Regions from separate parts of the Homo sapiens genome. Here region 2 is linked to region 1. Evidence: fine-mapped expression QTL. A gene starts in region 1. The other region holds a variant in brackets. All regions are shown on one strand. Distances are from middle to middle. Region 1 holds the start of ZNF23 (zinc finger protein 23). Region 2 holds the start of CHST4 (carbohydrate sulfotransferase 4).

Evidence for each region. PIP is the estimated chance that this variant, and not a neighbour inherited with it, causes the effect. A credible set is the group of variants that fine-mapping cannot tell apart.
Region 2: its variant is the best candidate, but not a certain one, in a credible set for the expression of ZNF23 in blood mononuclear cells (TOPMed, PIP 0.60).

What each region holds. Positions count from the first base shown.
Region 1 is chr16:71,454,798-71,471,095 of GRCh38, reverse strand. ZNF23 (zinc finger protein 23) reads left to right here and starts at 8,849. Exons shown (of 5, transcript NM_001381984.1): 1 at 8,849-8,886; 2 at 14,268-14,332. The coding sequence starts at 14,300. It overlaps LOC124903709 (a long non-coding RNA gene), which reads right to left and starts at 8,784. Exons shown (of 2, transcript XR_007065105.1): 1 at 7,804-8,784; 2 at 2,381-7,163. RefSeq lists enhancers at 8,731-8,890, 9,161-9,250.
Region 2 is chr16:71,514,320-71,530,617 of GRCh38, reverse strand. CHST4 (carbohydrate sulfotransferase 4) reads right to left here and starts at 4,192. Exons shown (of 2, transcript NM_001166395.2): 1 at 4,123-4,192. It overlaps LOC105371335 (a long non-coding RNA gene), which reads right to left. Exons shown (of 2, transcript NR_135172.1): 2 at 12,772-13,013. RefSeq lists an enhancer at 3,949-4,559. The variant T/C (reference allele first, on the strand shown) is at 8,222.

The DNA of each region.
Region 1 (16,298 bases):
AAGAGTTTGAGGATAAAGGTTCCAGTTTCCCATCTTTCAAGTGGACAATTAGAGGAGGAATTCTTTACTCTTTCCTGGAGGTCCCAGTGCTCATAGCATCAACCTTTAGAACACTTCATATTGTCATTTCCTCCTATCCTGTCTCACTCCTTGGGTTCTTTTAGTACTGCTTCCTGGGATCATCTCCTGAATAAATGTGCGTTCGAGTCCTTGTCTCAAGCCCTGCCTTCAGGGAAACCCAAACTAATGAGAGGGAGACAGAACTTTCAGGCAATGAGAATGTGTCTTATATTCTAGTAGTGAATATTAGTAGTCTACTCAACTGAAATCCTTTAGATGTTAGAGGATGGCCCAGATGAGCATTTTTGTGATGAAATCCCATTCTGTTTTCAGTGGTGGCTGCACATTTCTTATTTCTACTTCAAAGAAGCTTCCTCTCAGAGCAACTATGCTGTGGGGCACAACGTTTTCGTGTGTCACTGAAGTGCCTAATTTTAGATAGACTAAGTTGTTTATATAACTGTAGCTATGTGTGGCCAGGAGGTAAAACATGGTAAATATCACGGTTATCAGCCTGTAAGGAGGACCTGGCAATGCATGTCCCTCAGATTATCAACTAAAACAAGCACTTGGAGCCATGCAAATAAAAGAATCCTTAGAAGTATGCCACATACAATAAATGATTTTATTAATTACTCAACTTTTTTTTTGACACAGGGTCTTGCTCTACCACCCAGGCTGGAGTGCAGTGGCACGATCATGGCTCACTGCAGACTTGCCCTCCCAGGCTCAAGTGATCCTCGTACCTCAGCCTCCCTAGTAGTTGGGACTACAGGCATGCGCCACCACACCCAGTTTATATATATATATAAATTTTTTTTTTGAGATGGAGTCTCGCTCTGTTGCCCAGGCTGGAGTGCAGTGGCATGATCTCGGCTCACTGCAACCTCTGCCTCGTGGGTTCAAGCGACTCTTCTGCCTTAGCCTCCTGAGTAGCTGGGACTACAGGCAAGCGCCACCACGCCTGGCTAATTTTTGTATTTTTAGTAGAGATGGGGTTTCACCATATTGGCCAGGCTGGTCTCGAACTCCTGACCTTGTGATCTGCCCACCTCAGCCTCTCAAAGTACTGGGATTACAGGTGTGAGCCATTGTGCCCATCAATTTATGTATATTTTGTAGAGACAAGGTTTCACTATGTTGCCCAGGCTGGTCTAGAACTCCTGAGGCCAAGCAATCCTCCCACCTTGGTCTCCCAAAGTGCCGGAATCACAGACATGGGTCACTGTGCCTGGCAATAAATATTTATTTAGTGACTTCTGTGTGCTAAGCAACATGCTAGATGATAGCACATGATGACAGAACATGTTACTGATGAGCAACATGGAGCTTCTCTCCAGTTCCTGGTGCTACTGCCTTGTTCTGAGCCACCAACATTTCTTTCCTAGACTACCACAATTGCTCCTTAAGTAGTCTCCCCACTTCTGCTCTTGAATCCTTCTAATCTATCTGCCAGTCAGCAGCCAGGTGTGCTTTTAAAAATATGGAACATAACATGCTTTTCTTAAAACATTTCAATGGGTTTCCATTGACCTTGGAATAAAATCCAAACTCTTTAACATGGCCTGCAAAGCTCTAATGACTTCATGGCGCAGCACTTCCTCCCTCCTCTCTCCCCATGATGTGTCAAGCTTTTTTTTTTTTTTTTTTTCCACTGAAGGGCCTACACATGCTATTCCTCCTGCCTGGAATGCTGTCTCCTTGATTATGTGCCCAGATAGTTCATTCTTATCTTTCAGGTCTCAGCCCAAGATCAAGATCACTTCCTCAGGCCTTTCCTTACCTCCAAGTTAAAATGGTATTCCCTTGATATTATCTCCTAAACACCTTGCTCTTTACCTCCCTCACACGAATGAAAGTTTACAATAATATATTTATCCAGGTGTGGATTTACTTAAAAGTTGTGTCCCCCACTACAGTCTATGTTCTACAAAGACTGTAACATGTAAGCTTTGTTTTTCTTCATCTATAAAATAGATATAATACCTACTGGATCTTCTTCAGTATGGATGTGAAGAAAGCATTACATAATAAACATAAATGTGTCTAATAGTTAATGAAGTGCAATTCAGATTAAAGATGTCTTTGGGCCAGGCATCATGGCACATGTCTATAATCCTAGCACTTTGGGAGACTAAAATGGTTGGATCCCTTGAGGCCAGGAGTTCCAAACCAGCCAACGCAGCATAGCGAGACCCCATCTCTACAAAAAAGAGAAAAGAAAGAAAAATGTTTTCATGGCTCAGAACACCTGAATGCAAGGTAACTCACCAGGAAAGGAGTGTAAGTTAGTTGAATAAAGCAATTGGAACACACGAAGTTTCAGGTTTTATTACATTTTTATTATGTTCAAATAGTGTTGAGGTAATTTATTGTTAACAACAAGAACAATACATAGCTTCCTTGTCTTTTAAATCTTTCAAATACAAATAATTCATGTTAACAAAAATTTATATGATGTAAGAAAGCTTCCCAGAAGAGCCTCTCTTAGCCATTTGGGCCCACAATAAATTATCATCCTTGGAATCTCTGGATTTTGAGGCAGAGTGATAGAGAAGACAAGTAGGAACTGGGGCACTGGGTGATACGTGTCAGGTTCTGACCAAATGAATTCAAAGAAAGGAATAGGGTGAGATTAAGTATTTGGATATCAGGCTTAAAATATAGCCAGAGGGAGGCTGGGCATGGTGGCTAATGCCTGTAATCTCAGCACTTTGGGAGGCCAAGGCAGGTGGATCACCTGAGGTCAGGAGTTCGAGACCAGCCTGGTCGATATGGTGAAACCCCATCTCTACTAAATATACAAAAATCAGCCAGGTGTAGTGGTGGGCGCCTGTAATCCCAGTTACTCGGGAGGCTGAGGCCAGAGAATCGCTTGAACCCGGGAGGTGGAGGTTGCAGTGAACTGAGATCGTGCCACTGCACTCCAGACTGGGTGACAAGAGTGAGACTCCTCAAAAACACACACACATATATAGTCAGAGGGGACCAACACACCAGGTTGGAGGACAATGGTTCTGAGGCCAGCCCCAGAACCTTGGAGAGCGCCACAGACACACCCCCCCCCCCCCCCCCACTGAGTCGGAGCTAGCACCTTGGACAGCACCACGGCTTCTCTGTTTTCTACTGCTGTCCTTTGTACCTGGATGACACTAAACACAGGTTGTAGTGGTCACTGTTAATTTCTTGGGGCTTTCCACTCCGGTGTACCTGGCAATTGTAATCCTCTAAAATCAGCAGTCTTTTACAAGGTTCTTTATGACACGGTGGGGGTTGAGATTCTTTCTCTTCCTTCTAGAAACTTCAGCATCAGAGCTGATAATTGGACCGATTCCCTTGGGAGGTCTATGGGATTGGTACCTAGTATCATTGTGTTATGCCAGAGGCCAACGTCCTTCAAGTTAGGGGAAAATGTGTAATACCTGGTCATACTATGTAAGGAAGAATGCTCAGGGCTCTTCCTAGGCACATATAAGCAAATTATCAGGCAATACATGTGAGAAAGAAGGTATGTTGTATTCATTTGGAGACAGGCTGCTTGATTCTTTTTCATGCCCTCTCCTCACGTGCTAACCCCCACCTGTTAACCTATTTTCAGAAACATACAATGGATTGGATCTGCTTTCTCTGTGGTAAAAATCTTCCGAACTTGATTGTTGTTAGCATGTTTCTGTGAGGTTATGCACAAAAAACTTTGAAGGAGTTTGGCACTGTAGGTCTTTCTCCTACTTATAATATGTCATATTTACAAACTTATGCATTACTAACTTCATTACTGACAAATAAAAAAGTGTAATCAGGTCCACAAATAATTTAGAGGAGGGGAAAAGTTAACATTAATTGAGCAACTACTGAATCCTGGTCCCTGTTGTATGTACTTTAAGCAAAACATTATGTGTAGTATTTACAACAACTGTGAACTATTATCTCATTTTTCAGATGAATCATTGGAATTTCAGAAAAGCTAAGTGGTTGTCCAAGGTCTCATAGCTAGTAGGTGAAGAAATCAGGACTTCTCAGTCCTGTACATTTATTTTTAATTTTCTTTTCTCTGTGTTTGTTTTTGAATAGTTTCTGTTGCTATGTCTTCAAATTCACTCATCTTTTTTCTGTAATGTCTAATCTGCCGTTAATCCCATCCAATGTATTTTTATTGCACATTATAGGTTTTTATCTTTAGAAGTTTGATTTGGGTCTTTTTTATATGTTTCATTTCTCCACCAAACTTTTAGATGTATCAGATATGGTTGTAATAACTTTTAAATGTCATTGCCTACTAATTCTGTTGTGACTATTTCAGAAGTCTATCAGGATTAGTTTTTAATGTAATTTCTTGGATTATGAATTACTGGTCCAAGTAGATAGTATTAATTTAAACTCTATACTTAATGATGCAAACTATGATTATAAATTTTTAGAAGACATTTCTACTACCACTTCAAAGCTTAGGCAAGGACCATAAGATTCTTTGTTATCTCTCTTTGTTCATGAGATTTTTAAAAAATTTATCCTTTCATGATTGGATGAGTGTATGTGTGTGAGAAAAGTCTCTGTTCCTATTCCTTGTTCCTGTAATATGCCTCCTGCATATTATAATTCTGCTTTCTCAGATATCAAGACTTACAACTCTTCACCATTCCCACCCCTGTTGGCCAAAGCATCAGCTGAGGTCCTCAGTCCAAACCAATGCCTCTGGTTTTAGTTTCTTGTTTGGTTTTGGTACGTGGGTACACTTTCCTGTGAGTTAAGTATTTAAAATGATGTCGAATATTATATCTTATTCTAAATTTCTAGATTCTAGTTTATATTATTTGCTACATTGCCCTCAACTGAATTCTGCGTAATATTTATTGTCTTAAACTTATTGTTGTGAGATATTAATATAGCTGTGCCATTTTCCCTTTCCCTTAATACTTGTCTGATATATCTATTTTCCATTCTTTGACTTTCAATACTTGTGCTTTCTTAAGTTTCAGTAGTACCTTATAAGCATCTAACATTTTCTTTCCTTCCTTCCTTCCTTTCTTTCTCTTTCTTTCTCTTTCTCTCTCTCTTTCTTTCTTTCTCTCTCCTTCTCTCTCTCTTTTTTTTTTTGACGGAGTCTCATTCTGTCACCCAGGCTGGAGTGCAGTGGCATGATCTTGGCTCACTACAACCTCCGCCTCTCGGGTTCAAGCAATTCTCCTGCCCCAGCTTCCCCAGTAGCTGGGATTACAGGTGTGCGCCACCACGCTGGGCTAATTTTTGTATTTTTAGTAAAGACAAGGTTTCACCATGTTGGCCAGGCTGGTCTTGAACTCCTGAGCTCAGGTGATCTGTCCACGTTGGCCTCTCAAAGTGCTGGGATTATAGGCATGAGGCACTGTCCAGTCACTTCTAACATTTTTTCTGCGTAAATTTTAGAATCATTTTCACAAGTTTTAAAACAAATCCTATAGGGGTTTTATTTGGTATGACGTTGGACTTATGGATTAAATAAAGAAAACTACCCTTCCTACTGAAGGATTACCTGTGCCTTTCCATTTACACAAGGGGTTTTCATTGGTTTAGTCCCCAAATGTTTAAAATTTTCTTGATATATGTCTTATACATTTATTAGTAAACTTATTCCTATATATGTTTGGTTGCTTTGAGAATAAGACCTTGCCCTACCCTAGTACATTTCTCCACATAGATTAAATGATTTATTCACAGAACTCACAACATCAATAAGTAGGTAAAAATTTTGTAGCCTGAAAACAGCCTTGAACTCCTGGAATGAACATCAACCAGACAGTTGTTTTGCCACAGTTTTCATGAGAAGAAGCAGGCAAAGCCATCTTTACTCTGTCCTATTAAAACTGGAAACAACAAGAAATATTTTTTCTTTTTTGAGACGGAGTTTCGCTCTTGTCGCCCAGGCTGGAGTGCAATGGCGCTATCTCAGCCCACCACAACTTCCGCCTCCTGGGTTCAGGCGATTCTCTGGCCTCAGCCTCCCGAGTAGCTGGGAATACAGGCATGCGCCACCACGCCTGGCTAATTTTGTATTTTTAGTAGAGACAGAGTTTCTCCACGTTAGTCAGGCTGGTCTCGAACTCCCAACCTCAGGTAACTCCCCCCACCTCAGCCTGCCAAAGTGCTGGGATTCCAGGTGTGAGCCACCACGCCTGGCCAACAAAAAAGATTTTTTTTAACATGAGAAGATTGTCAGCTTTCCCTGGTGGTCAGAGAGGAAGGGCTTTAGAGAGGTCTTGGGGCTGCAGGGACAAAGGGTGCAGGAGAAGAAGCCTTAGAGCTGAGCAGGAGGAAACTGACACTACATGGCTGCAGGCCCAGCATGGAAATGAACTTCTAGAATGCTGTAGTCGAAGAGCCAGCTTAATTTTTTAACTCTTGTGTTGTGTGATTTTTCCATCCTTCCTCATTTCTAGGGGTATTAGTTAGGCTATGGGCTTGGAAATTAATTTGAAGAACCCAAATAAATGTGGTTTAAATTTGATGAAAGTTTATTTCTCTCTCATGTATCATCAGAAAGTAAGCCATCTGGGGCTGATATAGCAGCTCTGTGCCTCCTCCTTTTAGTTGCTCTGTCATCCCCAGCAGCCACACCCTTATTCACATGGTCCAAGATGCTCTGATGCTCTCCCTTGTCAACATTCCACCTGGTCGATGAAGGTTTGGGGGCAGGGAGGGCATGTCCCTTGTCTTTAAGGACACAGCATCACATTTTCTTACAGCCTGTTTGCCAGAAGTTGGTCACATGGACACACTTTGCCTTAAAGAATGCTGGGAAATGTGTGCTTTTTCCCTGAGCTGTCATGTCCCTTGCTAGAGATTCTGTAACCTTATAAGAATGGAAGAACAGGGGCTGACAGACAAGAACTGATCTCCATCTCTCCAGACCTACCATAGAGCTTTTGAAACTTGGTTTGTGCATTATTATCTCATTTTTCTGATATGTCTGAAGTAGGAGTAGGAGCTTTGTGGTTATTTAGAGAGCTTTATTTTCTCAACTGTAAAATTAGGCAATGGGTTTATGATGCAAACATTTGGGGCCAGCATTTATGTGATCTGATTCCTTCCTATTTCTTTCAACAAGTCCTCACTCCTGATTTCTGACCCTAGAAAGAAGTGAAAACCAGAACTTATTGACAAGAGCAACGTAATCCCCAGCTATTACTCTGCCCAATCATTTTCTTAATGAACTCATTTTGGAAAACAGTGAAGATCAGGGTCAGGGCAAGGCAGAGAAGGGCACCTGGCCATGGTCACTGTCAAGGTCCAAGGCATAAGACATATCCTACCCTTGGGGACACACAAAGTAGGCTTCTGCCTAAGAGTTAGGGCTGGAGCCTTTGGACCATTGTCAACAACAAATGTTTATTGCTCTCCTTCTTTCTGCCAGTTATTCTCTAGCTGAGGATGATGATGTTGAACAAGATAGATACAGTGTCTGTTCCCTGCAGCCACCAGAGAAGACAGACATATAAATAAACTATCACCATTAAGTAAGTACACAGTGCTGTGATGGCACATAAATGAGTGTCCTGCCTTATTCTGGGTGATGAGGGAAGGCTTGCTTCCCATGCAAAATGGGATTTGAGCTCACACTTCCAGTAACAGTCAAGATGGAGGGTAGGAATGGGAAGGGAAGGGCATTCTAGATTTAGAGAACAGCATTTTTAGCATGTAGGGCTGAGGTAGAGTCAGGGAATGAATGGGAGTGATAAGAAGCCACAGAGGCAAGTGGGAGCCAAATACCAGTCTCCAGTGCAGCAGCGTTGGATGGATCAGAGCTGGAAGGAAGAAAAGCCCACATTACCAGGGTTAGGGGGTGTGTGAGGGGGTGGGGATTTTAAGGGTCGTCCAATCCAGTGGCATTTAGTACTGTCTCCCTTCCCCCAGGGCTCATTTTGGAATTTTATGGTAGGTATTTTGTTATATTTGGTGTCAGTGGTAACATTGCTACTAGCGTTGTGGATAGGAGCCAGGATCCTGCAATGTACAGGACAGTCCTGCCCACTGAAAAAATGTTCACACTTTCAAATGTCTTGCTGAACATTCAGGTAGGTGAAAATTCTATTTCTAAATTATCTGAATCTAAACCTGTTTTCTGGATAAACATGTATTTTTGCACAGTTTTAACATACACTGATCTTCCAGGAATGTAATTATTGTATAATCAAGAGACGATTGTCCTGTGTTTCATTCAGAACTTCACGAAAACATGTTTGCCATTTTGGATCATAATTTTGTGACTTTTGCAACAATGTAAGTCACAGCTTTGTGGCTGTGGCACTCAGACAACGTCTATGTGTAAAGGCGACCACCTTATTAGGTCTCCTGCAGCAGCCAAGACCAAACACATTGAAGTATGTGTTTTTAAACGACAGATGACGGTCCTCTTTTTTTTCTCTTTCATTACACTTAAGGCATAACATTAGTTTTTAATATGTAGGTGTGTATGTTATGTATGATTTTCTAGGCCATTATATATGAATATCAGGTCAGGAGAATAAGATGGACATTACAAACTATTTGTTAGAAAAAGGGGGCATTGGGTGTGACAGCGCGCCATCCACTGGTCCATTTCCAAGACTCCCACACGTGGCTGCACCTGCAGCTTCACCTCCCCGGGCTGGGTCCCCGCTTGGCTCTGATTCTTACCTGCCCCATTCCCCAGGGGTAACAGTCACCGTGGGCCAGACCCGAGCTAGCCGACAGGGATGCGGCCACAGCTGGCCGGGCGTGACCACCACCGAGGCGCAGCGACCTTGCTCCTAGAGAGGCCCGGCCGCCTGGTGACGCACTTCCGGCAGCGCCGGGGAGCAGTCCGCTACGGAGGTGAGTGCAGGGCTCCGGGCGCTGTGTGCCGTGCCCTGTCCCCCAGGCTCTGGGTCCGGTTGAGACGCACTCCCACCCTGGGTGCTGCAGGGTCTCCCGTGGCCTACGCTGCCAGGAGGCCCAGGCTGGGAGAGGGAGCAGGGCGGCGGCCCGGGGTGCTCTTCCGCGCTCCTCGACTCCAGCTTTGGTCTTTGTGGCTCAATAGCTTGCGCCCATTGGAAGGGGAAACGCACGTTGCTGTCCCAGCCACGAGGCCCTGAGCATTTAGCACTTGGTCGACGGGGGAAGATGTGTCGGTGCAGCTAAAAGATGGAATATTTGCGGGCGTGAAGCGGCCCGAGGTGATACCACAAGTCTTTTGACATGCTGAGGTCTGGCAGGAACATTAACCTATGTGCATCCCGAGTATGGACCGTGTGCTCCCAGGCTCCTGACATAGGGTCATGAATTAGGGCCGAGTGGGAGCGCAGAGCCCCTCCCAGTCACCCGGCAGCAGAAGCAGCCCGGCTTTTGGAGGACATTGTCTCCTGGAGCAGTGTCAGTCCCAAAAGGTAACTCAGCCCTGCTTCTCTCGGCTCAGGGTTGACAGTGACCTGGGAATGACTTCTACAACGTAATTACGAATTCACTCAGTTTTAGAATATATTTAGTAGTCTCAGAATCGCTAATTCATACCCCCATGAAAAGCAAATTTACTACCTAAAGTACAGTACTTGGATACAGGTCTTTTTGTCTTTACTCTTATGGTATTTAGTCAAAATACTGTTTTCCAAAGTTGCTTACCCCTTTTCTTTCCTACCACTTAAGTGTGGTTATGTTCACTGTAGTATAGTTAAGCACATTGGCTGTTCTTTGTATTACATTTTGGGTCCTCAATTTCACCCCATCCTTGCTGGTTTATATATTTATTTAAAATATATATTTATATGTTACATATATAGTAGTAAACATCCATGAACACACCACCCAATTAAGAAAGAGAAGATTGCCAGTACTGCTGAATTTATCAATGTGTTCCTCCTCCTCAACCCAACTCCCAGCCTCCAACCCCTAGAGGTAACAGTTATATTGACTTTTGTGTTAATTGTAGCCCTGTTATTTTAAAAAATAATTACATATGCATGTATCTGTAAGCAATGTACTTAAATTTTTTTTTTGAGCTTCATATAAATGGCACCATTGTGTGTATAAGTCATCTGGGACTCGCATAATTCAATGTTAAGTTTCCAAATTCATTCTGTGTGTAGCTTCTGGGTAATGTTCCATTGTAAAAACTGTATGAAAATTTATCGATGTATTTTCAATGGACATGTGGGTTGTTTTCAGTGTTTTGTTATTAAAATGTGCTGATAATATTTTTGTACGTACTTCCTACATATGAGAGTTTCTCTAGTGTGTAAGTTTTTAAAATTAGGCACAAATGTTGAATTATGTTAAACATCTTTGGCATCTGTTGAGATGGACAGTGTGTTTATCTTTCTTTGATTTATTAATGTGAAAAATATACTAATTAGTATCTTCGTGGGATAATCCTACTTACTCATGATGTATTTAATGAACTATTGGAGTCTATTCCTTGATAGAATTTTTGCATTAGAATTCATAAATGAGACTGGTCTGTAGTTTTTGCATCAGTATTGTGCTGGCACCATAAAAAGAATTGGGAAACTTACTTTGCTGTGCTCTGCTACGGTTTACATAGTGTTAGAATTACTCATTTCCGAAACATTGAAAGAATTTGCTCATGACACATCTGAGCTCAGTGTTTTGTGAGAGTTAGTTCTTCACTGGCCATCTTGGTTTAATTAGGTAAAAGTAATCAAGGATTATGTAGAAAATCTATATAATGTCATAACAGGAAAAAACCTGGAATCGTATTTAAAAAAAAAAACTATCCCCTTGGGAGGGAGCCAAGAGACCAAAGAATGCCTTGGACGAGTCCAGCTTGGCAAGTAGATGAGTTTATTAGGACTTACATACTTACTCCTGGATGGCAGCAGGACAGCTTTAGAGACCTGTGATGCCCCTCGTCTCTAAGTACTTTTTAGAGAATTTTCTGGCTGTTTGCCTACTGCATTTAAACGATGAGACTTTTCTTGGTAGGTTCTCATATACTTTCTAGGATGTTTACGTTCTTGCAAACACCTGCTCCTCTGCTGAGCCCCATGGTCTTGACTCACTGCCCGGTCTTCAAGGTTCAGGCAGCAGGTATACACCCTTGACTAGCTGAGCGGGGTAGCTATCACACTACATATGTAATTGGTAGAGTTGGTTTATTATCTAAAAATGGAGTTGTATATTCTCCCATCACAGAATAAGTTTTCTCTTTAAACACCAGATAATATATTTTTTTAAATGGACATGAGTCACAAAAAAACCCTGAAAAATGTGTAAAGTAGAAGTTAGTAGATTGGGTTATATAACCATCATGCAATAAAGCCAGAACTTATAAACAGAAGAAATTAGCAACAGTAAACTATCCTAAGCAATTACTAGGTCAGAGACAAAACAGAATTGCTGACTGACTATAAAACAGTAATTAAAACATGAAATATAAAAACCTCTGGAATGTGGCAAATAGTGTATCCCAAGGAAAATTTGTGGCCTTATAGGCTTTAATTGCCAAATAGGAAGAATGAAAATAAATGAATAAGTCATGCAACCTCAAGAAGGTGGGAAAAAAGCCTTTTGTAGTCTAAGCTTCCCCAAAAGCAGAACGTGGAACAAAGATTTGTATGTAGGAATTTATTTAGGAATATGGTCACAGGGGCAGAGTGAAAGACAAGGGGAGTGAAACAGAGATGGGAGAACTGGTACAAGGATGCATTGGTATGCTCGGCCCTCAACAGGCTCTGCCTTGCAGGGCGTTTGAGGAGCCTTGGAGTCTTAAGGCTGCCCCGCTGGGGGATCGACGGGGAAAACATTTATCCATTGGTTTCTCTCCCCTATTGGTCAAGGGGGTCCCACAGGTGTTAATGCCTCTGCACTTCAGGGCCCAGCAGGTGTCCACAGGTGTCCCACATAGGACACCAGAGAAGCCCCAGGGCAGGAACCAGGCATAGGTGATGTAGGTCCTTGTGAAGGTTCTGGTAGCTTGCAGCTTCACAAAGCTGACTAACCTCTGTAGAACTGGACTGAGGATGGGATAAGAGGATTGGAGTGGTGCTTACACTGCCCCTTACAGAGCTGAAGGAACAAACTAAGAGCAGAATTAGTGAATTTAAAACAAATAGAAGAAAGTAGTGTTGCTCAACTAGAAAAGCTGGTTCTTTGAAAATAAAAGGAAACCACATTAAAATAAGTAAAACACTGCTCAGCCTAACTGTATTAGTCTGCTTGGGCTGCCATAACAAAATACCATAGACTGGGTGGCTTCACCAACATACTTATTTCTCACAGTCCTGGAGACTGGAAGTCCAGGATCAAGGTGCCAGCTGATTTTGGCTCCTGCCAGGGTTGCCTTCCTGGCTTATAGATAGTAGCCCTCTCGTTGTGTCCTCACATGGGGGAGGCGGGGAGTGAGTGGTTTCGTGGGCTCTGGGTCTCTCCTTCTTCTTGTAAAGGCATCACCCCTATTGGACCTCATTTAACCTTAGGACCTTTAGTCCCACCCTTAGGACCTCATTTATCCTTGTAACCTCCTGACAGGCCCCGTCTCCATATACAGTCACATTGGAGGCTAGAGCTTCAACATATGAATTTGGCAGGGGCATAAATGTTTAGTCTCTAACTCTAACCCTGGGAAAAAGGTCTAGAAAGCACATATATTCAAAAGAAGAAGTGGGAAAAGCAAACTAGCTCTGGATATGGAGGAAATGGAAAGAATCATGAACCAGTATTTTCTGCAACTCTGTACTAGTAAAGTTGAAATCCTGGAAGAAATGGATGATATTTTAGGAAAATGTAATTTCAAGACTGACTTTAGGGGCAGTAAAAGTCAGAAAATCACTAGTCCATATGTTTTTGAATACAGTGAACAAGAGGCTCTGGGTCACGGGACTGGCTGCTACAGTGATCTCCTCTCTCAGGAGCTGACGCAGAAGTGTAGGCCTTGGCTCATTCACTATCAGAAGACTGGAAAGTTTGGGAAACAGCCTGGTTCCTAACTTCCAGCTCAGCTTCCTAAGGACAGCCTGTGCTGTCCTTAGGAGGACTGACCTCTCAAGACCTCTCCAGAGGTGTTAGGATTCTTGAGGACATTCAGAGCTCTGAGGAAGTGGGGCAGGATACTGGGGGGCAGCTGCCTTCTCCAGGCGCTGCCTCCCTGGGGTCTGACTCCCCAGGCTTGTGTACTGGGGCTGCAGCCCAGCCAGTCCAGCTTCTCCTGCTGTGATACTGAAGATAATGCTTGTGTTGAGAAAGAGAAATAAGTCAAAGATCTTGGTATTGTCCTATTTCTTGAAATGAATTGTGGATACATGACTCTTTGCTTTATTTTTTAGGCTCTGCATACATTTTATTTTATTTTTATTTTTTATTTTTTTGAGATAGCGTCTCACTCTCATCACCCAGGCTGGAGTGCAGTGGTGTGATACTGGCTCACTGCAGCCTTGACCTCCCGGGCTCAAGTGATCCTCCTACCTCAGACTCCCGAATAGCTGGGACCACAGGCATGTGTCACCACCTCTGGCTAATTTTTTTTTTTTTGAGACGGAGTCTTGCTCTGTTGCCCAGGCTGGAGTGCAGTGGCGCAATCTTGGCTCACTGCAAGCTCTGCCTCCCGGGTTCACACCATTCTCCTGCCTCTGCCACCCGAGTAGCTGGGACTACAGGCGCCCGCCAGCACGCCCGGCTAATTTTTATATTTTTAGTAGAGACGGGGTTTCACCGTGTTAGCCAGGATGGTCTTGATCTCCTGACCTTGTGATCCACCCGCCCTGGCCTCCCAAAGTGCTGGGATTACAGGCTTGAGCCACCGCGCCCAGCCTAATTTTTGTATTTTTTATAGAGACAGGGTTTTGCCATGTGTCCAGGCTGGTCTCGAACTCCTGAGCTCAAGTGATCCACCCGCCTTGGCCTCTCAAACTGTTGGGATTATAGGCACGAGCCACCGTGCCCAGCAGGTTTTATATGCACTCTTCTTCTTCTTTTTATTTTTAATTTTTATTTGTTTATTTTTAAATTTTATATATATACTCTTCAGTGTGTGTGATATGTATCAGAATTGTAAAGTCCTAGGGTTCCTGGCAGTGAATTTCAGTGTCATAGCCTGGAGTCCTAGGCACTGAGCCAGTGAACAGATCATTCCCTTCTTGGGCAGCTCCTGTTCGCACTCCTATTTGGATGCAAGCTGCCTGTGTCTTGCATTTTCTGTGAGGGGCTATGTTGCTCTGGTTGGGGTGGCTTGCCTCACACTTGTCTCTCTTTGTGTTTCTCCTTAGCTCCAGCCCTTCTCTGAGACGGGGACCAGGGGATGGCAGCCATGCACCTGACAGCCTGGCCCCAGGTGAGCTGTGGGGTCCTTCAGCTCTTCCTCTGGGCAGTTTCAGATTGAAAAACATTGAGAAGGGGAGCTGGTGAGCCTCGGGATGACAGCTGCTTCCACCTGCTGGACTGGAACTTGTGGGAAAGAGGTGTTGTGCAGGGAGGGCGGCAGAGACCAGGACAGTAGCGAGTGGAGGAAGCGGGAGAGTGAGCAGGAGAGCAGGAGGGTGGTGGTCTTCTGCACACTGAGGGTCTCTGCTCCTCTCTACAGGAGCACCCCCAGCATAGGGCTCTGGGTGAATGGGGACGTGGAAACCGCCCCTGTGGGATGTACTGTGCAGGGGTGTCAGTGGAGCACAGTCGCAGAGGATTGGACTATCTGTGGTGGGGATGTAGAGAAGAGGAATAGCAGGACCTGATCAGAGAAGGATGGCCGTGCCTCTAATTCAGGGGTAAGGGAAGGTCACAGGGAGTGGAGTCAAGGGAGGGGGAAGACAGTCACATGGGACGGAATGTCTCATTGTGCTTGTGAAGCTTTCAAAGTTTAGGATGCAGACTTTAGGTCTCTGAGAAGAGCTTTCCACCCTGTCCTGCAGGAAAGAGGTGTTGTGCGGGGAACCTGCAGAACATAAACCTGCAAACCAAATTTTCCATACATTTTCAGGGACTTCACGGATCCCCTGAAGCTCATCCATGGACTTCCATGGACTACAGGTTGGGAACAGTCCACAGTCACACCAGTTGTATCTTTGGAGGCTTACTATGCTCCAGGAGCCATACTAAGCCCTTTGTATGGTCGTTTGGTCCTGACAACCGCCTCTGTGATAAGTGCTGTGTTGTACTCTTTCCACCTAAAAAGAAAAGGCAAAAGGGGAGTAGAGTAACTTGCCCAGGATCACAGAGTTATTGTGTGATTCAGAACTGCTTAGCCATAAGACAGCTGTGGAACCAGTGATGTTAACTTGGTCAGATTTGTGATGTGTATGGAATAATTTGTAAGGAAGATTCAAAAGCACGGTGACCACTTCACAAAGAAGAATCCCACTGGTCCCGTGACATGGGCTTCATCAAGGAAAGCCATCATTAAAGAGGGATCCAATTCAAGTAATGCTTAAGATAGAAAAATCATGGCCGGGTGTGGTGGCTCACACCTGTAATCCCAGCACTTTGCGAGGCTGAGGTGGTTGGATCACTTGAGGTCAGGAGTTCAAGATCAGCCCAGCCAACATGGTGAAACCCTGTCTCTGCTAAAAATAGAAAAATTAGCTGGGTTTTATGGTGCATGCCTATAGTCCCAGCTACTCAGGAGGCTGAGGCAGGAGAATTGCTTGAGCCCGGGAGGCAGAGGGTGCAGTGAGCCGAGGTCATGCCACTGCGCTTCAGCCTGGGTGACAGAGCGAGACTCCAACTCAAAGAAAAAAAAAAATCTTTCGGACATAGAGACTCAAAGGATTTGTGGTGATAAGGAAGGTGGGAAGTCAAGAACAATCCCCAGGTTTCTGGCTGAGGTTTCTTGTGAGGGTGATTCTGACCCCAGCTGAAGTGTAAGTTCAGAAGGAAGTGCCAACTTACCAGGGTGGTGGTGGCGGCACACAGTGAAGACATTATATTTTGTGCAGAGAAGTTACTTGTTGAAGGTCACACAAAGAAGGCTCACAGAAACACCTAAAGGTTGGACTAGAATTGCTGATGGGTGGAGGTCAGTAAATTCCAGGAAGACACATCCTAGCAGAGAGGAGTTGAGCAGCAGATCCCTGCCAGTGAGCCCCCATGGTTGTTAGAGCAGGCTGAGGTGGGCAGAGGGTAAGCCTCCCAGAGGCTGCAGCTGCCCAGGAGGGGTGGTTGGGCCTGGGAGTGACACGAAGCGTCCCTGAGTGGTGGAGCTTGTGCCAACCACATAGCTTAGTGATGCAAAGGGGAGAGTAGCCGGCCAGTGGGAAGGCCGGTCTCCCTGCTTTCCCAAATGTTCTTGGAGAAACAGTGAAGCT
Region 2 (16,298 bases), 60 kb before region 1:
TTTTTTCATTTTTTACTAGAGACTGGCCCTCACTATATTGCCCAGGCTGGTGTCAAACTCCTGACCTCAAGCCACCTTCCAGCCTTGGCCTCCCAAAGTGCTGGGATTACAGGTGTGAGCCACCGCACCTGGCCAAAATATCTTTTTAAAGCATAAGTCTATCAACTTCCTGCTTAAAAATCCTTCAATAAATTTCCAGTGTATATGGGATTAAATAAACATCCCCACACCTCGCACCTGGGGTCCTTCATGGCCTGGTCTTGATTTCCTGTCACTCCCTTCTGTTTTAGTGCCTTAGGCTCCCGACTTTCAGTTCTTCCAAACTTGCCCTGTTATTTAAAAGCCCTGAGATTTTTGCAGGACAGCTACTATTCCTTCAAGAATCTAACCTGCCTTCTCCCTGAAAGGGAGAGCCTGCCTTCTCCCTGAAAGAAGTTCTGTCTCTTTCTCCTGAGACTTTTTTTTTTTAATTTTATTTTTTAGACAGAGTCTTGCTCTGTCGCCCAGGCTGGAGTGCAGTGGCATGATCTCAGCTCACCGCAACCTCTGCCTCCTAGATTCAAGCGATTCTCCTGCCTCAGCCTCCCCAGGAGCTGGGATTACAGCCACGCCCAGCTAATTTTTGTATTTCTAGTGGAAATGGGGATTCGCCATGTTGGTCAGGCTGGTCTCGAACCCCTGACCTCAGGTGATTCTCCCGCCTCGGCCTGCCAAAGTGCTGGGATCACAGGTGTGAAGCACCGCGCCCAGCCCCCTCTTGAGATTAATTTGTTTCCCAGACCTTCTGTTAGCAGCCATCCCTTTTGACAGTAAAAGCCTGTATGGGTGCCTCTCTTTTCTCTGGGCCACTATAGCTTAAGGGAAAGGCTGTATCTTATCTTACTTACACGTACATAACAATTCTACAAATGATCAGGGCTCGGCTCATTAAACACTTGCTAAATAAATGAGTAAGTGAGTAAATAGATGAGTGTGGGCTTGATCTCCTGATCAAGATCACACCGCTGCACTCCAGCCTGGTCAACAGAGCGAAACTTGGTCTCAAAAAAAAAAAAAAAAAAAAAAAAAAAAAAATAGATGAGCATGGGAAGAGGCACAGTAATTGCTAGAAAGCAGAAAACTAAAGGAGCTCCTTCAAGAGAATGAAACATAAGTATCCTTTTCTGAAATGCACACGGACACTCTTCAGCATCAGTGACTAAAATTTAGGTGATTGCATGGAACAGTGAGCACATTACCCATGCCGTCTCAGTTACTTGGACCAAGCTACTAATAAAGTCAGAGGCATGGGTTAGATGCAGTATGGCACAGTAACCCTTGGTCCAAAAAACAGTTACTATACCAAGCATGCATTAATTAAAACCAGGAGGGAAATTATTTTTCTCTTCCTGTATGAAAATTAGTTTTAGAAAACATTTAAAAAATAAAAGCCTCATTGCTGGGTGATAGGCTACCTTGCTTGAATCAGCTCAGTTACTAGGCTAACAAAGCAAAAGCAAAAAAAAAAAAACAAAAAACAAAAACAAAACAAAAAACCCAAACTCAGCACATTCCATCATCACCACCCCAAAAAATTAATTTAAAAAAATGTTGCCCCAACGATGGGTGAACGGTATCATCTTAAAACACAAAGGACAGCCATTTCTGAGGAGTCAAGAGAACCTTAGGAACTTGAAAACGCCACCAAAGGGTGGTGAGAAGGGAGAATCTATGTTTGGCACAGGAACCACGAAGGTGCCAGATGGGTGACCTCAAGCAGCAGCTGATTAGAGTGGGCTGAATTATAGATGTCCCCCAAATCGGTACCATGTAGCCTCGTAGAGACAAAATGGGAAATTCTGAGGGGGAAAAAAACCAGATAGATACTAATTTAAGAAGTCTGGGTTCCAGCCACTGGATGCATTCCTAACTTACACTTCCCATGAGATTATGCCCCTTACAAGTAGAAATTAGATACAGCAGAAGATACCTTGAGCAAAGAGAGAGAGAATGGGGTTGGATTGGGGAAACTGGCATCCTCACAAGCAGCCTGAAGACCTGGAAAACCTCTGAAGCTAGGCACCTGGGTAAAGGGTGTCCATATAACAAACTCTTCCTAGACAGTGTCAGGAGGATTGGACCTGGGTCCCGCCAGGGCTGTGTCACTAGTGCCAAGGACAGTGCATGGCACATAGTAGGTGCTCAAGGAACATCTTTCAACAAATGACAAGTGAACATATATTTGTACAGTGTTTTTTTTTTTACTATATGAGACCCAGAAAGGAAGATTGAGCAAGATATTATAAACCAAAAATAAAATTCTAAGGCCCCCCAACCATCTGAAAGGACTTCCTCCTCAGCCAGGACTCTTTTTTTTTTTTTTTTTTTTGAAATGAAGTCTTGCTCTGTTGTCCAGGCTGGAGTGCAGTGGCACGATCTCAGCTCACTGCAACCTCGACTCCTCAGGTTCAAGCGCTTCTCCTGCCTCAGCCTCCCGAGTGACCTGGCTAATTTTTTGTATTTTTAGTACAGACATGGTTTTGCCATGTTGGCCAGGCAGGTCTCGAACTCCTGACCTCAAGTGACCTCAGTCTCCTAATAGTGCTGTGATTACACCCATGAGCCACTGTGCCCAGCCAGGGGTCTTTTTAAAATTTAACCTGAGAGACTGTTTCAGGCCATGACAAGAAGTGGGGATCTAACATGCCTCATCATACCTCTCCAGCATTAACACCAACACAGACCTTAAGTCTGATAAGAAACATTTTACAACCTATTCTCTCTGAAGCCTGCTATCTGAAGGCTTCCTCTCAGTTGCAGTGAGCCGAGATCGCACCACTGCACTCCAGCCTGGGCGACAGACCCGTACTTTTTTCTTTTCTTTTTTCTTTTTTGAGATGGAGTTTTGCTCTTGTTGCCCAGGCTAGAGTGCAATGGCAGGATCTCGGCTCACTGCAGCCTCCCGGTTTCAAGCGATTCTCCTGCCTCAGCCTCCTGAGTAGCTGGGATTACAGGTGCCTGCCACCATGCCCAGCTAATTTTTTTGGTATTTTTAGTACAGACAGGGTTTCGCCATGTTGGCCGGGCTGGTCTTGAACTCCTGGCCTCAGGTGATCCACCTGCCTCAGCTTCCCAAAGTGCTGGGATTACAGGCGCGAGCCATCGCGCCTGGCTAGATGTATTTCTTAAATGTATTTGATTGAAGTCTCATGTCTCCCTAAAGTGTATAAAACCAAGCTGCACCCCGACCACCTTAGACACATGTTCTCAGGACCTCCTGAGGGCTGTGTCACCGGCCATGGTCACTCATATTTGGCTCAGAATAAATCTCTTCAAATATGTCACAGAGTCTGACTCTTTTCATCGACAATATTACATTTATTTTACACATAGAAAAGTATTTCAATTCCAATTAGAAGTTTCATACTTGTCCAAGGCCATGCAAGATAGACGTATCTTCTACCATAGCTGATATGTTGGCACCATAACTTAATCATATTGCACATGTGCGTGGTGTTCCACATTTTTAAAGCCCTTTTAGCTGCAATTATGATACTGATCGGTTAGATATTTTAGACAGTGATGAGACATTTCTTCATTTTTCAGAATAAATAAACTAAACTTTAATTGACTGGCTCATCCGGTATAAATAGCCTTTTCTGGATCAGAACCCAGGTTTTGGGGATCCCAGGGCTGAGAATTTTCAATGATCACACTGTCCCTCTCCTGAGCTAGAGAAAACCTACAGCTCCTTGCACCTCCTGTCTTCCACTCCCCAGCAGAAAACAGAGGAGAAGCTGCAGGAAGTACAGAAATTTGAGCTCCAAAGCCAGGATCTGAACGAGTCAGTTGGCACCAGGGGACCATCTACAAAATATACATCAGAACAGCCTGATCTGCTCTCTGGGCTCTTTTGGACCCATTTAGGGATAGAGCTAGTGGGGCTTGGGGGCTGCTGGTAAGCAGCTTGTGTTTTATTTTACCCAGAAAATTCCCCAGGTGATCTGATTTATCCCCTCTGCGCAAACCGCCTTCGCCACTGTAATCTCTAGCTTAGCTGCCAGAGGTTATCTGATACTCTTGCTCCAGCAGCTCTGGGTAATGGCTCTGCATTGGAGTCGTACACAGAAATTCTCTTCTTACCTTGTGGCTTGGGCTTCCCTGCTGCTTTTGAGAGGCTCACTGCTAGCCGGGCCATGCGCTTTTCTCCTCTGACTCACCAACTCCCCTCTTGGCTTCCTCCTCCTACTTGCTTTTGCATAACCGTCCCTACTCAGAGCACATTTCACTGTCCCTCCCTTCTGCCAAAAACAAAAAAGGACCCACCTTGCAAGACGGGCTTGAGAAAGCACTCGCTCCCAGGAAGCTGTGAAAGTAACAGCTTTAACACTGCTGAGACTCAAGGGGTGGGGAGACTGCTTGAGGTGGGCTGGGAGAAGCAAATGAGGAAGCATTTTCCCCCAGACTGGAGGCATCCTGGCATGTTGACTACTGAAAGGCAACTGTGAAGGTCAACTCCCTATGGGCAGAGTGGGGAGGTGGGGAAAAAGAGAAAGAGAGAGAGAGAGACCCAGGGAGCTAGTAGATGAGGCTGATAGGGAAATTTCATGACACTTACAAGCCGAAAGGCTACAAAATCTCAAACCTGATTTTTAGACCTTGTTCTTATCTCCAAGGAGAAAATGTGAAAGTTATTTCTTGCATTACACCTGCCTGCTCACTCCACCCTGGGTCTAGGGAGGTAACATTTCTCAGCCTCTGTGTTGTATTCAATATCTTCACCCTTGCTACAAGAGGTAATAAATATTTTCTGGGAGGACATAGATGTACTGGCTTGGTGGTACAGGAGAAAAAAAAGTCCCCTTTAAGAAAAAAAGAAACAAATTATCATTAAAGATTACAACCTCTCCCTTGCTGTGTGCCCTTGGGCAAATCACTTACCTACTCCGTGCTACTTTACACGGTTGTCATGAGTCTGAAACAATGGATGCCCGTGAATAAACGTAAATTGTGGTGGAGAATGGAAGCCTCAGACTTTCAAGTCCAAGATCTTGCCGGGCAAGTCATACCACCTCTTTGAGCCCTAGAATATCATCGGTGTTAAATAAGGGTAACAATATCTATTTTACAGTATTGTTGTGAATGTTAGGATTAATGCGTATGAAGCTCCTAACACAATAATATGACAATATAAGAGTTAAAAAGTGGTTGAATAATAATACCTTCCCACCGCCACCCACCCCCGCAACTCAGCTGCCACTTCCTTTTCCAGACCTTGGAAGAGAGAGAGAGCAGGCAGGGAGTTGTGTGAGCTTTGGGATGATCTTTGCCGATTTCCATCAGCTAAGTCCGCTAAGCACAAATGACAAGAACCTGTGGTGCTTGCCTTGACTTGATTTCAATTGTGTGGCTCTTCCTCCCTTCCTGTTTCTCTCTGGCAGAGAGAAGAGAAATTTCTCTTCCTCCAGTGAAGGACTTTGGGCAGAGGTGTAACTGGAAGCACTAGAACTGGGCAGTCGGTAGTTTTGCTTTTATGCACAAAGAGATGATTCAGGTGCTGGCACGACACAGCGAGATGGCACAAGGCTTCATCATGCTACTCAGAATAGTATGTAATAAATGAACTGTTTATTTCTGTAATTTTCCCATTTAATATTTTCAAATCGTGGTTGATGATGAGTAGTTAAAACTGGGAAACAAAACCGTGGATAAAGAGGGGACTCCTGTAGTTTTATTCCAGCCCTTTCTAACATTCTTTTCGTGTTTTTCCAGCGCCTTCCCAAATATAGTGAGGTCACTCAAATACACCATAACCCCAAGTAATTCAGATCACCTGCCATCTTTCCCGTGCTAGGAATTCATGCTGGCAGAATGCCAAGCAGCTGAAGAAAGGCATCCTCTGGTCACTAGTATACGGTGGTGACCAGCATGTTCAGATACTGGACTTCCAAGGGTCTACCACATTCCACAGCACTGGGAAGAAATTTGAATGCTGGTGTCTGATATCCAGGCCTTCTTGTGGAAGTCCTGCAGCCCACGTCTCTAAGGCAGCACTGTCCAATAACAGTCTCTGTGATGATGGAAATGTTCCATATCTGCACTATACAGTAGCCACTGTCCACCTGAAACGTGCTAGTGCAACCATATTGGATCGTGCAGTCAAGTAAGAGATCTAATCTTTTTCTTTTTGAGTCTCCAAAATCTGATAACAGATATAGACCTCTGTAGAAAAATGTACAATTGCTCATATACAAACACAAAATCATGTGCAATGCCAAGGAATCCCAAGTTTAAAATCCGTACAAAAGGCTGTGTGTACTTGAAGTGATTTAGACAATTGTCTCCTGGGGACCACTATTCAGCGGAGTCGCTGATCTCATCTTTGCCCTTGGAAGTTTACCATCTTTACTGTCTGGGGACCCACCTGAGTGGTGAAGAGACCTGGGGTCAGCTACTGACCTAGACTCTGATTTTCTCAGGGGTCAAAAGGATCTTTCTGCTGGTTATACTACCTACTCCTGCTACCTTACCCTGACCATCACTCCAAATGAGATTGCAGTTTCTTCACTTCCACACTTACCTACATATCTTTTCTGTCCCTAGTGACACTGAAAGGACAGTGATGCTTCCTTGAGTTTCTTTTCTTATGGGGGCTCTAGCATTCCTCATTTTTTTACGCTAAGCATCAGCCTGCAATGCAGATGTCCAGGCCTGAAACTGTTGAGGAACATGTCACTCCCTACATTGGTCACCAGCCCTGTTTTGCTTACCAAAGCCAGTGTCTGGCCTGAGTAGGTCACTGGCTAAGTGGCTGAGTTTAGAGAATAGATTCTGGAGGGCTTTGTAGTTTGGCTAAGTTTCTGAAGTCTATAGAGACTGGATCTTAGCATCACAGGGAGCCAGCGCCTTCGGAAGAAGTGTCTGCAAGCCAGGAAGGAAATCTTGGTTGCTGTAAATCCTATTATCAAATGGGTAATTGCTTTCAGTAGAACTTGCTTCCTTGAGCTGGGCCCTGGTGGTGGACATCTGTGTAGGGAATCCCCCAGCAATACGATGTCCCTTATCTGTGTTAGAAATATTTGTTTCAACAGTGGGAGAATAAGTTGGACTAGAATAGATTAGGGAAAAAACGAACACAGTTTTAAGTTTTTCACTGGTTCTTGCTTTTTTGTTGCTCCCTTGAAGGGCAGAGGGGATGGGAAAATAGGAAATAATGAGCCAGGAGCTCCTAGTAAAACTCAGGCATCCCTTATATGTCTTTGATGGTTCAGGAACATAACATTGCTGCATAATTGTGGCTTTATCTGGAATCAGGCTCCTGAAATTCTACCTCTGGTCTTCCAAAAACTGTCAGAGACTGCTTCAGGTGACCCGTGATGATTTAGTCAGGGAGTTTCTGGGGATGAAATCTGGGGAGACTATCAGTGTGTCTTCCGGTGGACTGTCACCTCATGTATCACATTGATCACCAATGTCTGTCTAAAGGTAAAATAACCTTAAATAGCTGTCAAATTTGCCCTCCTTTATATGTCAACAGCCCCTGTCTTCAGTCTGCCTTTCAATTTTTTTTTTGCTTGAATTTCTGCCAACAGTCTCTCACTTTTTCCCATATCCCCAATCTTATGCCCTCCAGCCTTCCCACTCTATGCTGCAGCTAGAATGATCTTTCCTAGGATGGATCTGATCCCCAGCATTTCCCTGATGAAAATGCTACAAAAGAGCTCATTAGAGACACAGTACAAATTCCTCGAGATGCTTAGTTAGGCACCTTTTAAGAGTTGGTGTCTCTCGGCCAGGTGTGGTGGCTCACGCCTGTAATCCCAGCACTTTGGGAGGCCAAGGTGGGTGAATCGCCAGAGGTCAGGAGTTCGAGACCAGCCTGGCCAACATGGCGAAACCGTGTCTCTACTAAAAATACAAAAATCCACCAGGTGTGGTGGCATAGACCTGTAATCCCAGCTACTCGAGAGGCCGAGGCAGGAGAATAGCTTGAACTCAGGGAGTGGAGGTTGCAGGTAGGTGGGTAGATGATGTGCTGGGAATTTGTGGAAACTCCCTTCTTATTGCTTTTATTTTCCTAGTGAGTGAGGGGATAAGGTTGTCAGCTGAGTCTGAGGATGGGGAAGGAGTTAATGGAAGCCTGAAGAGAGAGGAAGATATGGAGTGGCCACCTGTGAGGATACGTTAGTGACTATGCTAGGGTAATGAGGTAAGATAGATGAGTGAAGCCGAAGGTGAGTGG[T/C]CATAAACTTAAAATGAAAGCAGATAGCAGAGGTGTGTAGTTTTTCCAGCCCTGTTCGGCTACTACTACTTGTGTGGGGATAAGTGGAGAGTTAGATTTAAGTAAGACCTCTGCTTTTCTGGAAGAGTACAATGAAGTATTAGAGAGGCAAGGGAGCCTAGGGGATATTCAAAGGTGTAATTATGATAATGAACCATGGAATCTAAGCTGGTTAAGAGGAGAAAGAAGGACAGAAAGATTATAGCTGAACTAAGTTGGAGGGCAAGTTTTTTGGGAGTGAGGAGGTCAAGGATTTGAGACATCAGGGCTTTGAAAGTATCATCTCTAAGGATATTGAGTTCATGTAGAATTGTCCCAGGAGTAGAGTTGGAGAGTGGCAGGGGTCATATGACTGTAATGAGGGCCATATAGTCTGGTTAATATCAGAGTGAAAGCTGGAAATGTTTAGGAAGGAGGGAGCCAGAATAATCTGGAAGCAGCAATGAGGAACAAGAAAACTTATTCCATTGTGGAGTGTAAGAAACAGCCACCACTTGAGAGGACTGCAGAGAAAGCAGTGTCTTCAAGGGAGACCTAGTTTCCTTTAGAGCAAGAAAGTGAAGAGGAAATTAAGACACTTCGAGAAAAGATGGATTTTGTGGATCCCAACAAGGGTGTCGGGATGGGGAGGGTGGGAAATGGGGTCAGAAAATGAGACATTTGGAGCCATTTGGGATGAAACACAAGGGATAAGGAACAACTGAGGATCCTGGGCTACTTGTGTGACTGGCATAAACCAGGATAAAGGAAATAATAACAGATAATGATGGCCTCCAGGAAGATAGTGGTGGCCAAACTGAAAACTTGGGGAAGGGCAGTGTGAAGTACCTGCTGGAAGAGGCTGGGGTGCTCTCTCTTTACTCTTGGCAATGGTGACGTGGAGGCCAGGGTAGGGGTGTTGTTGAAACTCTAGACATTGAGAAACTGCATCACCACTTCTCCAAACAATGCAAAGCATCTGGAGTCAGCTTGGTTGAAGGAACAAGATTTTTGGGCTGGGCATGGTGGCTTATGCCTGTAATCCCGGCACTTTGGGAGGCCAAGGCGGGCGGATCACCTGAGGTCGGGAGTTCGAGACCAGCCTGACCAACATGGAGAAACTCCATCTCTACTAAAAATACAAAATTAGCTGGGTGTGGTGGCTCATGCCTGTAATCCCAGCCACTCGGGAGGCTGGGGCAGGAGAATCGCTTGAACCTGGGAGGCGGAGGCTGTGGTGAGCTGAGGTCATGCCATTGCACTCCAGCCTGGGCAACAAGAGTGAAATTCCATCTCAGAGAGTGAGAGAGAGAGAGAGAGAGAGAGAGAGAGAGAGAGAGAGAGAGAGAGAGAGAGAGAGAGAGAAAGAGTCTTGACTGAGGGAGAAAGAAGAGATAGATCACGGAGCACTGAGGGACTAGGTAGTTCTCCAGGGGATATCACAGGAGTTCCTGGGTGCTGACCTGTGTGACATGAAGTCATGTAGTCATACAGTTGGGGTGGATACAGTGGCTCAAGAATGCCATTGGGTGACTTATTTCTACAGACCATCAACTTCATGCTTATTGCCTCATGGCCAGGAGACAGCTGTGCACATCTAGGGCTCACATCTACATTCCAGACAGGAAACTGCAGAAAGGTTAATAGCTGCAGGGCATATGCATCACATAAAGTAAAGACGTGGAAGCACTTCAGTCTCCAAAGCTCTTGGTTCATGTGGGTTGCTCTGCTTAAAGCGCCCTCTCTGCTTTATTGCCTGGTTAACTTGCGTCTTCTCTTTCAAGATTCAACTCAAGTCAGCATCACCTTCTCTGGGAAACCATTCCTTATGTCCCTAGGCTGAGTTAGGTGCCCTGGTCTGTGTGTTCAGAGCTCATGGCAGATTGCCATGATGACCTCCATTCTCCCATCTTTGTATCCATGCCCTATGACATATAACTCTGCCTGGGGTCTCAGCTATGCTACTCGCTTTGATTGTAGGGATTTTTTTTTTTTTTGAGATGGAGTCTCGCTTCTTTACCCAGGCTGGAGTGTAATGGCACAATCTTGGCTCACTGCAACCTCCGCTTCCAGGGTTCAAGCAATTCTCCCGCCTCAGCCTCCCCAGTAGCTGGGATTATAGGCATGTGCCAGCATGCCCGGCTAATTTTTGTATTTTTAGTAGAGACAGGGTTTCACTATGTTGGCCAGGCTGGTCTTGAACTCCTGACCTCAAGTGATCTGCCTGCCTAGGCCTCCCAAAATGCTGAGATTACAGGCATGAGCTACCGTGCCTGGCCTGTTGGGATGTTTTTAAGCAGAGGCTTTAAAGTAACTTGTGCAGTTGGACATGTTCTTGCTCTTGTGTCTTAGTCACTGCCGTGAGATCATGCCTGCTGGATGAAAGGCACGGGAAGCACATCCAAATTACCATGGTTGTCCTAGCTGAGGCCATCCTAGATCAGCCAATGGCAGCTAACCACCAGACACTTCAGTGAACCCAAGCCAAATCAGCAGAACTACCTAAGCAACCACCCTAGATGCACAAGAAATGAGGTTTTATTGTATACCACTGAAGTTTCATGGCTGGTTGTTACTCAGCATTATAGTAGCCTTAGAAAATTGTTGCAGAGTCCCTTCAGCATAGCCACAAGCCTTAGCCATGTCTGTCTTCCCAACTCACGTTGGGAGAGAATCACCTTTTATCTGTGTATATTACCTCTTGCCTGTGTATACCTAGCACGTAGCACAATGCTTGGCCCATAGAAGGCGCTTGGTGAAAGTCTGGGAAAGGAAGGAATGAATGAGCCTTTGTTCAACCTTAAAAAGGAACTTTTTTTTTTTTTTTGAAACAGAGTCTCTCTCTGTCACCCAGGCTGGAGTGCAATGGCATGATCTCAGGTCACTGCAACCTCTGCCTCCTGGGTTCAAGCAATTCTCATGCCTCAGCGTCCCTAGTAGCTAGGATTACAGGCGTGTATCACCCTGCCCAGCTTTTTTTTTTTTTTTTTTTTTTTTTTTTGAGATGGAGTCTTGCTCTGTCGCCCAGGCTGGAGTGCAGTGGCGTGATCTTGGCTCACTGCAATCTCCGCTTCCCGGGTTCAAGCGATTCTCCTGTCTCAGCCTCCTGAGTAGCTGGGACTACAGGTGCCTGCCACCACGCCCGGCTAATTTTTCTATTTTTAGTAGAGATGGGGTTTCACCATATTGGTCAGGCTGGTCTTGAACTCCTGACCTCAGGTGATCCACCCACTTTGGCCTTCCAAACTGCTGGGATTACAGGCGTAAGCCACCGTGCCTGGCCTAATTTTTGTACTTTTAATAGAGACAAGGTTTTGCCATGATGCCCAGGCTCATCTCAAACTCCTGACCTCAAGTGATCTGCCCACCTTGGCCTCTCAAAGTGGTGGGACTACAGGCGTGAGCCACTGCGCCCAGCTGAAAACAACAACAACAACAACAACAAAAAACAGGTGCACATTCCCTATAACTAAACAATGTAATCAAATACACGCACCCACAGAAAACCTGGTCCAACAAACATATGTGAAGCGACAATATAAAACCAAGTCTCATCACTGTTTAAAGCACTTTTCTACCTCAAGTACAATGATTGTCTCTCAAACATGGGGCACTTAATTTTACATTTTATTGTATTGTATAGTTCAATCCAAAGATAATCTAAATCCCACAAGTACATTTTAAAAGGTCGAAGGTAAAGAAGTAGATATGACTCAGTGTCGATATTTTTTCTATTATTTTCAGTACGCAATACTAAATCACTCTAACCACTGACGTTTCCTAAACAATGTCAAGAAACTTGCATTGCTTAAAAAATTATTTGTATTAACATTAAAAACAGAATTTCCACTAGGAGACCACAGAGGACACATGTATCTAGTAGCCTAGTTAAGTATGTGGCTGGGGTGGCGAGAATATCATCTTTATGAAAGGTCAGTGTTCACATGGGATTGTGTGTTTGAGGCACACTAAGAAAATTAATTTTGTCAAAGAAGAGGGTTTCTGTAGAGCAATAGTGAAAAAGGGTGTGGATAGGGGGCAGAATAGAGCTTAATTGTGGAAATCTGAGTGTAAGGTTAGGGCATTTTTATATTCTACTTAGCAGAGAATAGTTACAACTTTATTTTTTATTTTTAAGACAGGCTCATTCTGTTATATAGGCTGGAGTGCAGTGGTGCAATCACAGTTCACTACCACCTTGACCGCCCGAGCTCAAGCGATCCTTCCACCTCAGCCTCCCAAATAGCTGGGACTATGTGTTTTTATTTTGTGTAGAGAAAAGGTCTCACTTTGTTGCCCAGGCTAGTTTTGAACTCCTGGGCTCAAGTGATCATCCTGTCTTGGCCTCCTAAAGTGTTGGGATTACAGGTGTGAGCCACCACATCTGGTTGCTTTCAACCTTTGAGCAAGGGAATGACATAATGAAGTGTTGGGTCAATCTAGCTGCTAGATTCTAGCAGTATGGTGAAGTGGTTTTTGCAGAAACATGTTTAATAGTCATATCAAATAATTTAATGCCAAAACACTATTATGCAGATATACCCATTTATTTAAAAATCACATATTTCTTAAAGTCTAGATTGATGCGAGGATGCAAATGAACAAGAAATCATTTTGAGATCATAAGGTTTGCTCTTCTCTTCCTAATAGTCATCTAGTTTGTTGCCCGTTGTGAATCCATGAATTACTCGTTTTTTTTTCTGAGTATTGGGTTGTCCTCATTTTCCTTTGTTTTGCCTTTGATACTCTCCCTTGGGTCCTGTTGGTCCAGTTCCTTGAAAAAATAATTACAGTAGGGGTAGAGGTCAGAAGTAAGAATGAATGAGACTCCATGAAGCCAAAACCAGAATCAACATTGGGATAAACTGTTTTAAGCTCCCTTTCCAAGAACACAGTTCACCCGAGTTATGATAGCATTTACCTTTTGGGTGTGAGGATATCATTTTGCCTTTGAAGTGTGTTTCATAATCCACTGATTGGACACATTGCTATATTGCTGTCACTATTTCTTTTTATTCAAGAGGAACTTAAGAGTTAGGAAGGATAAATAACTTTGTCCAAATTATTTTGTTATGTTAGTCACAGAAGCACGTCTTTTCACACTCCATGCCTCTCTAAGACCTGCTGTTTCTTCTAGAATATTCTCCTCCCCACCTTACTCCCATTCCACCTGCCAAAAATTCAGCCTTCTAAACCCTGTTCAGATATGCCTTTCCTGTGCAACCTTCCCTTCTCCCCGTGCCAGTTCTTTCTCCTCGCCCCCCAAAGTAAATTGTACAAACCTCTGTAATGATGCACATGCGTTTACATATATGCCTCCCTATAGGACTATAGGGGTCTTCCATTTTGTGCCCCCAGCACCAGCATCTAGTACACAGTAGGTGCTTAATTAACGTCGGATACAAGATTAGAGAATCTAAAGGCAAGGAGGGAAATTTTAAACCCTTCCAAAATCTAAGCAAAAGATAAAGAGGCAGCACCTAAAACCACCCCCACTTGGATTAATTTTTTTTTTCTTTTTTTTTTTTTTTTTGAGACAGAGTCTCGCTCTGTCGCCCAGGCTGGAGTGCAGTGGCGCGATCTTGGCTCACTGCAAGCTCCGCCTCCCAGGTTCACGCCTTTCTCCTGCCTCAGCCTCCCGAGTAGCTGGGACTACAGGCACCCGCCACCACGCCGAGCTAATTTTTTGTATTTTTAGTAGAGACGGGGTTTCACCGTGTTAGCCAGGATGGTCTTGATCTCCTGACCTCGTGATCCACTAGCCTCGGCCTCCCAAAGTGCTGGGATTACAGGCGTGAGCCACCGCGCCCGGCCTAATTTTTTTTTTCTTTAATGTATTAGGGAAGGAGGCTTCTCAGCCCTCCCGCAGCCGTCAGGGGGTCGTCGTGGGGCCGCTTTCCCGGCTTCACCTCGGGGGCTCCCATGCGATCCCCCGCAGCCTCCCCGGCCTCGCACGCACGGTGGCCGTGACCTCTCCCCACACCGCCCCGCAGCCCCTACGCTCTACATAGTGCGCATGCACTGTGCGCCTTGCTGCGTTTCCCAAGCTGATGCACCCTCTTCTTTACTCCTCTTTGTCCTTTTCTCACGTTTCCTTCGCCCAGGAACTTTGTTTTCCCCCTTAGAAGACATCTGCCTTTCTGGCCATATCCTCCACCCAGCGCCTCCCTGGAGAGCTGGCAGAGCCCCGCTGCGGCGCCAGGAGGGGGCTTCTGCGCCCTGGGTTGCGCTTCCTCTTGCACGAGGCTTTTTCCTTCCAACTTCTCCAGTGCGCAGTCGGGCGGTGAGGACTCAAGGAACGTGAGCACAATTTGGTTAGGGGGCGAGGAGGAGGTCTACCCTGGCAGGCAGGCCGGCTTTTCTAGCTGCTTCTAGCTCCCTGCAGACAAACCACTGGTCCCACAGGCTTAGGGTTGAATCCTGTAGGTGGATAGTCCTGGGGTCTCACACACAACCCATGCCAGAAGAATGTTTTTATTTTCTTATTTTTGCTCACTTGTATTTTTTGGGGGACGGCGGGGACAGGGTCTTGCTCTGTTGCCCAGGCTGGAATGCAGTGGTGCTATCATAGCTCACTGCAGCCTTGAACTTCTGGGCACATGTGATTTTCTTGCCTCAGCCTCTCAGGTAGCTGAGCCTACAGGTGTGCACCACCACTAGCAAGAACATTATAGAAGAAACACCTGGCCCCCCCCCGCCCCACCTTTCTTTTTTTTTTGTAGAGATGTAGTAGTCTTGCTATGTTTGCCCAGGCTGGTCACTCCTGTATTTTCTAATTTTTAAAAGTGCGCATGTATTTCTTATGTGATAAAAACCATTAAATGCAAAAATATCTTCTTTGGAAGTAGGGATCGTTTGTGCAGCAGACTTGGCGGAAATCTCAAATATCTGTTGAAAGTGCATAAAAGAATGTGCACATCAATTTTATCCCGAATCCTGCCTCTTCTGAAGTTCTAATTCAAATGCAGCCTTCTCATAAAACATTTCCTTATATCCTCAATTACATAGGCCTACAAAGCCTTACCTGATTTGGCCACGCCCAGCCCATCCCATTCCTCACTGACCCCCTCACCTCCTGCTGTTCCTCATTCCTGAGGCTCTGAAACCTTGGCCTCTTCCTCCCTGTTGTTCCTGGCACACTGGAGAAAATCGATTAATATTTGTTGAATGAGTGAATGAATGTGACCTCTTCCTGGTTTGTATCATTCGGACAAAATCTGTTCTGTTCTATAATTAGGTATTTGTCCTATGTCCCCTACTGTTAAGCAACTTGAGGCCTCTTACACCCTGTGATATGACCCCTGCTGTGCCTGGCACAATGCTTGATATGTAGTAATAGCAAATATTAACAATAATAGTAGGAAGAGTTGTTACCTGAGTGATTACTAGGGGCCAAGTACTGTATTAAATATTTATAAGTATTACCTCACTTATATATATAATGACCATGAAGATACCCAGATTATAGGAAGGCATGTGGCCATAAACGTAGCCTTCTATTCTTAGTGCTGCTTTACAGCGGAGGAAGCTGAGGCTTAGAGAAGTTAAGTAGCTCACCCAAGGTCACATTGCTAAGACGCGGCATTACAGGAAAATGCAATCCTAAATTATTTTCAGATCCATAGTTTTCAAAGTGTGGTCCAGGAACCATTGGGGTCCTCGAGACCCTTTCAGGAGGTCTGTAGATGCAAAATCATTTTAATAATCATGCTAGGACATCGTTTGCCGTCTTCATTCTCGTGTGTGTGTGTATGGTGGTTTTCCCAAGGCTATGTGTCATGTGATATCAAATCACCTTGAATGCAGATGCAGAAAGGAGAATCCAGTTGTCTTCCATTAAGGCAGACTTTAAAGAGATTTTCAAAACTGTAAAATAATGCTAATCATTCCCCTTAATTTTTAAAAAATAAAATATATTTATTTTTAATAAAAGCATTTTTGTCAACATGTAATATGTTCATAATTGTCATTTTTGAATAAATAAATATTTAAAAATTTATCAATTTTGATTTCTAATATGGTAAATATCTATAGAGAGGAGCCCATATAAACAAAAACA